Homo sapiens: one gene and its partner. The protein of the gene in region 1 purifies or fractionates together with the protein of each later gene. This does not show direct contact. Each region holds a gene or a part of one and is shown on either strand. Other genes may lie near its edges.

The links.
Region 2: the proteins of FUCA1 (region 1) and PLOD1 fractionate together in Homo sapiens (co-fractionation; one large-scale study listed by BioGRID). This does not show direct contact.

What each region holds. Positions count from the first base shown.
Region 1 is NC_000001.11:23,850,567-23,855,751, reverse strand, and holds part of FUCA1 (tissue alpha-L-fucosidase precursor), read left to right. Parts: intron 1-1,191; coding exon 1,192-1,392; intron 1,393-5,185. UniProt on the Homo sapiens protein: Alpha-L-fucosidase is responsible for hydrolyzing the alpha-1,6-linked fucose joined to the reducing-end N-acetylglucosamine of the carbohydrate moieties of glycoproteins.
Region 2 is NC_000001.11:11,950,713-11,955,897, reverse strand, and holds part of PLOD1 (procollagen-lysine,2-oxoglutarate 5-dioxygenase 1 isoform 2 precursor), read right to left. Parts: intron 3,276-5,185; coding exon 3,163-3,275; intron 1,069-3,162; coding exon 1,005-1,068; intron 1-1,004. UniProt on the Homo sapiens protein: Part of a complex composed of PLOD1, P3H3 and P3H4 that catalyzes hydroxylation of lysine residues in collagen alpha chains and is required for normal assembly and cross-linkling of collagen fibrils.

The DNA.
Region 1 (5,185 bases):
TCCTTTTCAATTCTGTGACCCATGATGCCCAGACATTGATAATCAAGTACCAGACATTGGATTGAACTAGTTACAAATAATGACTATTCTTCTATTTCTCTTTGGCACTTAACTAGCTTCCATAGGAGAAACTTCATACCAATGTGAATGACTCTAAAACAGGCAAGAAATGGGAATTTTAAACTTTTAATAAATCTCTTTTTGCCGTGATGAATTGAACATGGTTTCAGTTTTGTTTTTGTTTTTGTTTTTGAGACGGAGTCTCGCTCTGCTGTTGCCTAGGCTGGAGTGCAGTGGCACGATCTCGGCTCACTGCTACCTCCGCCTCCCAGGTTCAAGCGATTCTCCTGCCTCAGCCTCCCAAATAGCTGGGACTACAGGCATGTGCCACCATGCCCAGCTAATTTTTTGTATTTTTGGTAGAGACGGGATTTCACCGTGTTAGCCAGGTTGGTCTCTATCTCCTGACCTCATGATCTGCCTGCCTTGGCCTCCCAAATGGTTTCAGTTTTTATCTTGTATTGGCCACTCTGTTATAAAATATGCTGCATTTAACATTTACATTAAGATATTCCATGTATGATTTATCATTCTTCAGCTAAACCTTGAAGTAAGAAAAAGAATTTGCTATTTTTTTTTTTTTTGAGTGGGATTGTCTTAAGACTTTTTTTTTACGTAAGTAAGGCTGGGATTATATAGTTGGAAAACAGCCTGCCATGGGTTCAGATACCTGATTTGTAGTTCCAGCTTTTGAAACTGCCTAGGGGCATGGCCCCAGGCAGGTCCTCTCCTGTTCATTTCTCCTCTTATAGAAAAAGTGATTTACCAGATGATCTTTAAAGCAAGCTCTCCCAGCCCTGACATGTATCTCTGCAGCAGGGTTTCTCTACCTCAGTACTGTTGACATTTAGGGCTGAATATTTCTTTGCTGTGGGGGCTGTCCTGTGCATTGTAGGACGTTTAGTAACATCCCTGGTCTCTACCCACTAGATGGCATACCACCCCCGTTGTGACAATCAAAAATGTCTCTAGACTTTACCAAATGTCCCCTCCAGAGCAAAATTGCCCCCAGTTGACAGCCACTGCTCTAGACTAAGTTTCTTGCTTCCAAATAGAGCCTTACCAAAGTGTATTACATAAAGAAGTCAAGTGGTTTTACTCCTCATGACCAAATATTCTTTCCCTCCTTAGGATGAGGTGGTAGTAAATGACCGATGGGGTCAGAACTGTTCCTGTCACCATGGAGGATACTATAACTGTGAAGATAAATTCAAGCCACAGAGCTTGCCAGATCACAAGTGGGAGATGTGCACCAGCATTGACAAGTTTTCCTGGGGCTATCGTCGTGACATGGCATTGTCTGATGTTACAGAAGAATCTGAAATCATTTCGGTAAGAGCACCTTTGAGTTTTTTGTTTTTGTTTTTTTTTTTTTAACATGCAGTATGATTTATTTTATATAATGTTCAAAAGCTTGCAAAAACAGCATATTGTTTACAGATGCATATTTTGGAGGTAAAATTATGAAGAAAAGCGAGATCATTATAAACAAAATTTAGGAGGGGGCTGGGATGGAGAAGGGCATGCAAAAGGGCTTTAACGGTGTTGGTTGTAATCTATATCTTAAAGTGGGTGTGGGTAGTAGGGTGTCCAGTTTTTTATTTATTTATTTATTTATTTATTTATTCTTTATTGATCATTCTTGGGTGTTTCTCACAGAGGGGGATTTGGCAGGGTCATAGGACAATAGTGGAGGGAGGGTCAGCAGATAAACAAGTGAACAAAGGTCTCTGGTTTTCCTATGCAGAGGACCCTGCGGCCTTCCGCAGTGTTTGTGTCCCTGGGTACTTGAGATTAGGGAGTGGTGATGACTCTTAACGAGCATGCTGCCTTCAAGCATCTGTTTAACAAAGCACATCTTGCACCGCCCTTAATCCATTTAACCCTGAGTGGACACAGCACACGTTTCAGAGAGCACAGGGTTGTGGGTAGGGTCACCGATCAACAGGATCACAAGGCAGAAGAATTTTTCTTAGTACAGAACAAAATGAAAAGTCTCCCGTGTCTACCTCTTTCTACACAGACACGGCAACCATCCGATTTCTCAATCCTTTCCCCGCCTTTCCCCCCTTTCTATTCCACAAAACCGCCATTGTCATCATGGCCCGTTCTCAATGAGCTGTTCGGTACACCTCCCAGACGGGGTGGTGGCTGGGCAGAGGGGCTCCTCACTTCCCAGTAGGGGCGGCCGGGCAGAGGCGCCCCTCACCTCCCGGACCGGGCGGCTGGCTGGGCGGGGGGCTGACCCCCCCACCTCCCTCCCGGACGGGGCGGCTGGCCAGGCGGGGGGCTGACCCCCCCACCTCCCTCCCGGACGGGGCGGCTGGCCGGGCGGGGGCTGACCCCCACCTCCCTCCCGGATGGGGTGGCTGCCGGGCAGAGACGCTCCTCACTTACCAGACGGGGTGGCTGCCGGGCGGAGAGGCTCCTCACTTCTCATATGGGGCGGTTGCCAGGCGGAGGGTTTCCTCACTTCTCAGATGGGGCGGCTGGGCAGAGACGCTCCTCACCTCCCAGACGGGGTCGCGGCCGGGCAGAGGCGCTCCTCACATCCCAGACGGGGCGGCGGGGCAGAGGCGCTCCCCACATCTCAGACGATGGGCGGCCGGGCAGAGACGCTCCTCACTTCCTAGATGGGATGGCGGCCGGGAAGAGGTGCTCCTCACTTCCTAGATGGGATGGCGGCCGGGCAGAGACGCTCCTCATTTTCCAGACTGGGTAGCCAGGCAGAGGGGCTCCTCACGTCCCAGACGATGGGCGGCCAGGCAGAGACGCTCCTCACTTCCCAGACGGGGTGGCGGCCGGGCAGAGGCTGCAATCTCGGCACTTTGGGAGGCCAAGGCAGGCGGCTGGGAGGTGGAGGTTGTAGCGAGCGGAGATCACGCCACTGCACTCCAGCCTGGGCACCATTGAGCACTGAGTGAACCAGACTCCATCTGCAATCCCGGCACCTCTGGAGGCCGAGGCTGGCGGATCACTCGCAGTTAGGAGCTGGAGACCAGCCCGGCCAACACAGCGAAACCCCGTCTCCACCAAAAAAATACGAAAACCAGTCAGGCGTGGTGGCGCGCACCTGCAATCGCAGGCACTCGGCAGGCTGAGGCAGGAGAATCAGGCAGGGAGGCTGCAGTGACCCGAGGTGGCAGCAGTACAGTCCAGCTTCGGCTCGGCATCAGTGGGAGACCGTGGAAAGAGAGGGAGAGGGAGACCGTGGGGAGAGGGAGAGGGGGGAGAGGGAGAGGGAGAGGGGAGTTTTTTGTTTTTTTTAATGAAATGGGGTCTTGCTCTGTCATGCAGGCAATAGCGCAGTGGCACGATCATACCTCACTGTAACCTCAAACTCCTGGGGCTCAAGTGGTCCTCCCACCTCAGCCTCCTGAGTAGCTAGAACTACAGGTGTGCACCTCTACAACCAGCTAATTTTTAAATTTTTTGTAGAGACAGGGTCTTGCTATGTTGCCCAGGCTGGTCTCAAACTCCTGGCCTCAAGAGATCTAGCCTCAGCCTCCCAAAGCACTGGATTACAGGCATGAGCCATGGCAGCTGGCCTGAGTTCACTATTTTTTAACTATGGATCTCAAACCACTTTTTATTATTATTATTATTATTATTACCTTCTAACATACTATATGATTGATTTTAATTATTTTTTTCCTCTTTTTTTAAATTTTACTTTAAATTCTGGGATACAAGTGCAGAGTGTGCAGGTTTGTTTCATAGGTATACATGTGCCATGATGGTTTGTTGCAAACTATCAACCCGATATCTAGGTTTTAAGCCCCACATGCATTAGGTATTTGTCCTAATGCTCTCCCTCCCCTCACCCCCACATTCCAACAAGCCCTGGTGTGTGATGTTCCTCTTCCTGTGTCCCATGTGTTCTCATTGTTCAACTCCCACTTATGAGTGAGAACATGTGGTGTTTGGTTTTCTGTTCCTGTGTTAGTTTGCTAAGAATGATGGTTTCCAGCTTCATCCATGTCCCTGCAAAGGACATGAACTCATTCTTTTTTATGGCTGCAAAACCAGCTTTTTTATGTAAGAGTGATGTCCAGCTTCATCCATGTCCCTGCAAAGGACACATTCTCTTTTATGGCTGCAAAACCAGCTTTTTTATGTAAGAGTGATGGAAGTACTCTGGATAGAAGTGCAGGTCAATAGAACCCTTTTAAGGACATTGAATAGACTAACAGAAACCTGTCCTAAGGAAATAATTAGAGTTACACAAGAAAGTTGTGCAGAGGTCCTTCCCAGGATTATTTGTATGTATGTATGTATGTATGTATGTATGTATGTATGTATGTATGTGTATATTTATTTATTTATTTATGAACGAACTTCACTCTGTCACCCAGGCTAGAGTGCAGTGGTGCGATCTCGGTCTGCTGCAACCGCCGTCTCCCGGGTTCAAGCAATTCTCCTGCCTCAGCCTCCCGAATAGCTGGGAATACAGGCACGTGCCACCATGCCCAGCTTATTTTTGTGTTTTTAGTAGAGACAGGGTTTCTTCATGTTGGCCAGGCTTGTCTCGAACTCCTGGTAACCATAAAAATGTTGACAAATTTAATATGGGTTAATGTTTAGAGCACTGAATGAAAAAACAGTTACATATTGGCTGGGCACAGTGGCTCATACCTGTAATGCCAACACTTTAGGAGGCCAAGGTGGGAGGATCCTTTGAGGCCAGGAGTTCAAGACCAGCCTGGCCAAAATAGAAAGACCCCATCTCTATTATTATTATTATTTTTAATAAAGTTACATATTGGCTGGGCATGGTGGTGGCTCACACTTGTAACTCCAACACTTTGGGAGACCAAGACAAGAGGATTGCTTGAGGGCAGGAGTTTAAGACCAGCCTAAACAACATAGTGAGACCCCATCTCTATTTTAAAAAATAAAAATAAGTGGCCAGGCACGGTGGCTGACACCTGTAATCCCAGCACTTTGGGAGGCCAAGGAGGGTGGATCACAAAGTCAGGAATTCGAGACCATCCTGGCCAATGTGGTGAAACCCCGTCTCTACTAAAAAATACAAAAAAAATTAGCTGGGCGTGGTGGCACATGCCTATAATCCCAGCTACTCAGGAGGCTGAGGCAGGAGAATTGCTTGAACCCAGGAGGCAGA
Region 2 (5,185 bases), about 12 Mb from region 1:
TCTCAGCACTTTGGGAGGCCAAGGCAGGTGGATCACCTGAGGTCAGGAGTTCGAGACCAGCCTGGCCAACATGGTGAAACCCCATCTCTACTAAAAAAATACAAAAATTAGCCGGGCATGGTGGTGTGCGCCTGTAATCCCAGCTACTTGGGAGGCTGAGGCAGGAGAATCACTTGAACCTGGGAGGCGGAGGTTGCAGTGAGTCGAGAATTCGCCACTGCATTCCAGCCTGGGCGATGGAGCAAGACTCCATCTTAAAAAAGAAGAAAAAAAAAGGAAAACAGATAGCTCCTGACCTGCGTGGATCTGAACTCAGTGCTTCTTAACCCCCAGAAACCACAGGCAAAGGGCATTTTCTGCGTTTCTCTGGGAGCAGAGCCGTAGCTTTCATCAGATTCTCAAAAGGGCCCATTTATCCACAAAATCAGCAATCAGTGGATCCGGTTCACTTCCCTTTTGTAAAGATAAGAAAACTGAGTCCCCTGTGGGGAGGAGGTGTGACTTGCCTGAGGTCACTCAGGAAGACAGGAAGACCTGCGGCAAAGCAATGTCATCACCAGCCACAGACATGAGGCCAGGCCCAGGGATGTTTGCGGCATCAAGGGTCAAGTAGCCTTTTGCTTCCCAAGCTGCCTGTCCCACCAGCTGAGTTCCTGCCCCTAGCCCAGGACTCCTTCACCTGGAAGGTGGGAGGGCCGGGAAAGTGGGGAAAGAGGGCCCACCTGTAAGGACCTGGTATGCAGGGCAGGGGGTCCAGCACCTGCTGTGCGCATCCCCCAACTCCTCCCAGGCTGAATGCTCACTTGTCCCCCGCCCCCAAGAGAGACATGGCTCTGCGCCAGGATATCCAAGTGGCCCCTGGGGACCTGGGGATGAGGCCAGTGACCTCTCAGCACAATGGCCAGAAAGAAGCAGCCCATTTCTCCTCCCTGGGCTCGGGCCCTGCCTGGAATTCTTCCTATCACCCCTCTGAGGATCCACCCCTCCCCGTGGGGGCTGCTCACCCAAGGCTCCATCCAGGTTCTGGAAGATACGGCAGCGGTGGTCCAGGGTGATATTGATCTGCTCCTGCAGGAAAGAAGGTACCAGACTGCAGCAGGGACAGGCCCTGGGGGAGGCTGGGGCTACATCTCACCCAGTGTGGGGAATCTGTCCCCAAGTTCAGCCCTCATTCCCCACACCGACTCTGCCACGTCACATCAGGGCAGCTAGGTGCCCAGAGAAGGCCAGCAGCCAAGCTCCTGGGGTCTACAGTCTAGTGGCTCTACTCACAGAAAACCAGGGACTCTGAACTGGAAGGAATCTAAGAATGCAGCCGGCTCACCTACAACAATGACGGCCGTTAAGAGTAACCAGCACCTGCCAAGCACTCCACTACACGCACATAGCTACTCCAAATATTCTTTTTTTTGAGAAAGAGTTTCGCTCTTGTCACCCAGGCTGGAGTGCAATGGCACGACCTCGACTCACTGCAACCTCCGCCTCCTGGGTTCAAGCGATTCTCCTGCCTCAGACTCCTGAGTAGCTGGGACTACGGGCATGTGCCACCATACCCAGCTAATTTTTTTTTTTTTTTTTTTTTTTTTTGCTAGAGATGGGATTTCACCACATTGAGCAGGCTGGTCTCGAACTCCTGACCTCAGGTGATCCGCCCCCGCCCCCCGCCTCCCAAAGTGCTGGGATGACAGGTGTGAGCCACCGCACCTGGCCGCTACTCCAAATATTCTACACGAGTCGGGTGCGGTGGCTCACTCCTGTCATTCCAGCACTTTGGGAGGCTGAGGCAGAAGGATCACTTGAGCCCAGGAGTTTGAGACCAGCTTGGGCAACATAGCAAAACTTCATCTCTATAAAAAAATCTTAAAATTAGCCAGACATGGTGACGCAGGCCTATAGTCCCAGCTACTCAGGAGGCTGAGGTGGGAGGATCGCTTGAGTCCGGGAGGCTGAGGCTGCAGTGAGCTATGTTTCTGCCACTGCGCATCAGCCTGGGTGACAGTGAGACCCTGTCTCAAATAAATAAATAAACTATTCTACATATATTAATCAATTTAATCCTGACAACATCTCTGTGAGAAAGTATTATCATTATTGCTTTTTTTTTTGAGATGGAGTCTGGCTCTTGTCACCCAGGCTGCAGTGCAATGGCACAATCTCGGCTCACTGCAACCTCCGCCTCCCAGGTCCAAGCAATTCTCCTGCCTCAGCCTCCTGAGTAGCTGGGATTACAGGCACCCACCACCACGCACGGCTAATCTTTATATTTTTAGTAGAGACAGGGTTTCATCATGTTGGCCAGGCTGGTCTCAAACTCCTGACCTCAGGTGATCCACCCGCTTTGGCCTCCAAAGTGCTGGGATTACAGGCATGAGCCACTGGGTCTGGCCCATTATTGCATTTCATAACGGAAAAAACAAGGGACAGAGAAGTTGCCCAATGTCACACAGCTAGTAAATGGTGAGCTGGGATTGGAACCCAGGCAGCCTGGCCCTGAAGTCCTTATTCTGAACCAATGAACAATGCTGCCTCTTTAAGACCCGACAGCCGGGCACGGTGGCTCACGACTGTAATCCCAGCACTTTGAGAGGCCGAGGCGGGTAAATCACCTGAGGACAGGAGTTCGAGACCAGCCTGGCGAACGTAGTGAAACCCTGTCTCTACTAAAAATACAAAAATCAGCCAAACGTGGTGGTGCACGCCTGTAGTCCCCGCTACTCGAGACGCTGAGGCTCGAGAATCGCTTGAACCAGGGAGGTAGAGGCTGTAGTGAGCCGAGATCGCACCACTGTACTCTAGCCTGGGCAATACAGTGAGACTCCATCCCAAAAATAAAAAAATAGGATTAGTGTCCTTATCAATGAGGCCCCAGTGAGCTCCCTACCCCCTTCCACCATCTGAGGACACAGAGAGAAGTCAGCTGTGTCTGTACCAGTTAGAGGGCTCTGACCAGAACCCAACTGTGATCTCACCCTTCCGGCCTCCAGAACCATGAGAAATCCACATCCGTTGTTTGGGAGCCACCCAGCCTATGGCAGTTTGTCAGAGCAGCCTGCATAGACTAAGACACCAACCCAGGGGTTCAGGCCTGAGAGGAGCTGTTCCCGTGCAGCCTGGCCGGTGGATCCCCAGCCCCCTCTCCTTGGCCCGCCCACTGCCTCTTACCCTCTTCTCCGGGTCCAAGAAGATCTTGGTGTAAAACAGCTGATCGCTGTCGCTGTCCTGGCCCTCCCACTCGGCCACCAGTTTGCTGAGGTTGGGGGCATAACCGATGAAGCCTGAAGGTTGGTGGGTGGGGACACCAAGACGGACCCTTAGCTTCCAGCCTCTAAGTCAGGGGCCTCCTCCCACCCTTCCCTCTTATCCACCTCCACTCATATGCCCACAAACCCTGTCACCTCTCAGAAGTCCTCCTGAATTGACAGGAGGTGGGGCTGCAGGTTGGAAATGGGGCTGCCAGTGAATGTCACTTATTAATGAGTTCCTAATGACCCCAAGAATAAGACCAATGGTGCCCACTAAGCTGTACTGTTCAGTGCTGGGCACCATATAGGTGGTGAAGAAACGGATTGTACGAGGAGCCCCTGGAGAGCAGGGCTGGGAGGATACAGGCCTGGTGTCCCTTTTTACAGTTATCTGGGAAACCTGGCCCAGAGAAGGGAAAGGCTGGGCCAAGCTCACAGAGTGCCTTGGGGGCTGAGACCTGGCATAGTGGGGAAGCCCACATGGGCCCCTGGCTAGAGTACAGACTGGTGACAAGCAACCACAAGAGCAATGGGACATCCCTACTCCTGGGCCTGGGCCAGGGCAAGGCCATCTGGACTGTGCTTACTCTGGACCAGTGGAAAAAAGTGTCTGTTGAGGGCAGATGGCAGATCCCCATCTAAGGTTGAAAAGAGGCCTGTGGATTTTATTCTCCGTGCAGTGGAAAGTCATTAAGTGATGTGTGTGAATTTGCATCTTTATTTATTTATTTATTTTTAAGACAATGTCTCGCTCTGTCGCCCAGGCTGGAGTGCAGTGGCACGATCTCGGCTCACTGCAAGCTCCGCCTCCCGGGTTCATGCCATTCTCCTGCCTCAGCCTCCCGAGTAGCTGGGACTACAGGCGCCTGCCACCACACCTGGCTAATTTTTTGTATTTTTAGTGGAGACGGGGTTTCATCGTGTTAGCCAGGATGGTCTCGATCTCCTGACCTCGTGATCCGCCCACCTCGGCCTCCCAAAGTGCTGAGATTACAGGCATGAGCCACCAATATATATATTATATATATTATATAAATTATTATATATAATATATATAATATATTTTACATTATAAAAAAATATAGTATTATTTTTTATTTAAAAAAATTATTTATTTTTTTGAGTGCAGTGGCACCATCTCAGCTCACTGCAACCTCTACCTCCTGGGTTCAAGAGATTCTCCTGCCTCAGCTTCCCAAGTAGCTGGGATTACAGGCGTGTACCACCACGCCCGGCTACCTTTTATATTTTTAGTAGAGATGGGGTTTCGCCATGTTGGCCAGGCTGGTCTTGAACTCCTGGCCTCAAGTGATCCTCCCACCTCGGCTTCCCAAAGTGCTGACATTACAGGCGTGAGCCACCGCGCCTGGCCTTGGATTTGCATCGTTTAAAGACACCTCTGGCTGCTGGATGGAGAATGGCCTGGAAGGGCATGAGGGTAGGGAATGGCAGAGCAGTAAGGAGGCTCCTACCAACGGCCAGGAGCCCAGTGAGAATGGTGGCAGTGAACTGTGGGCCAGAGAGAGCAGATTCCAGAGATCTTTAGGAAGTAGGAGGCAGGTGGCCAGGTGTGGTGACTCATGCCTATAATCCCAGCACTTTGGGAGGCCGAGGCAGGTGGATCACTTAAGGCCAGGAGTTCGAGACCCACCTGGCCAACATGGCGATACCCCATCTCTACTAAATATACAAAAATTAGCCGGGCATAGTGGTGCATGCCTGTAATCCCAGTGACTTGGATGGCTGAGGCAGGAGGATTGCTTGAGCCCAAGAGGCGGAGGCTGCAGTGAGCTGAGATCCCACCACTGCACTCCAGCCTGGGCAACAGACTGAGATGCCGTCTCAAAATTTAAAAAGTAGTAGACAGGTGACTGGCATTGGACGTAGGTGGAGGAGGGCAAGGGAGGAGTCAGGAGTGACTCCTGGGTTCTGTCTATGGGGCT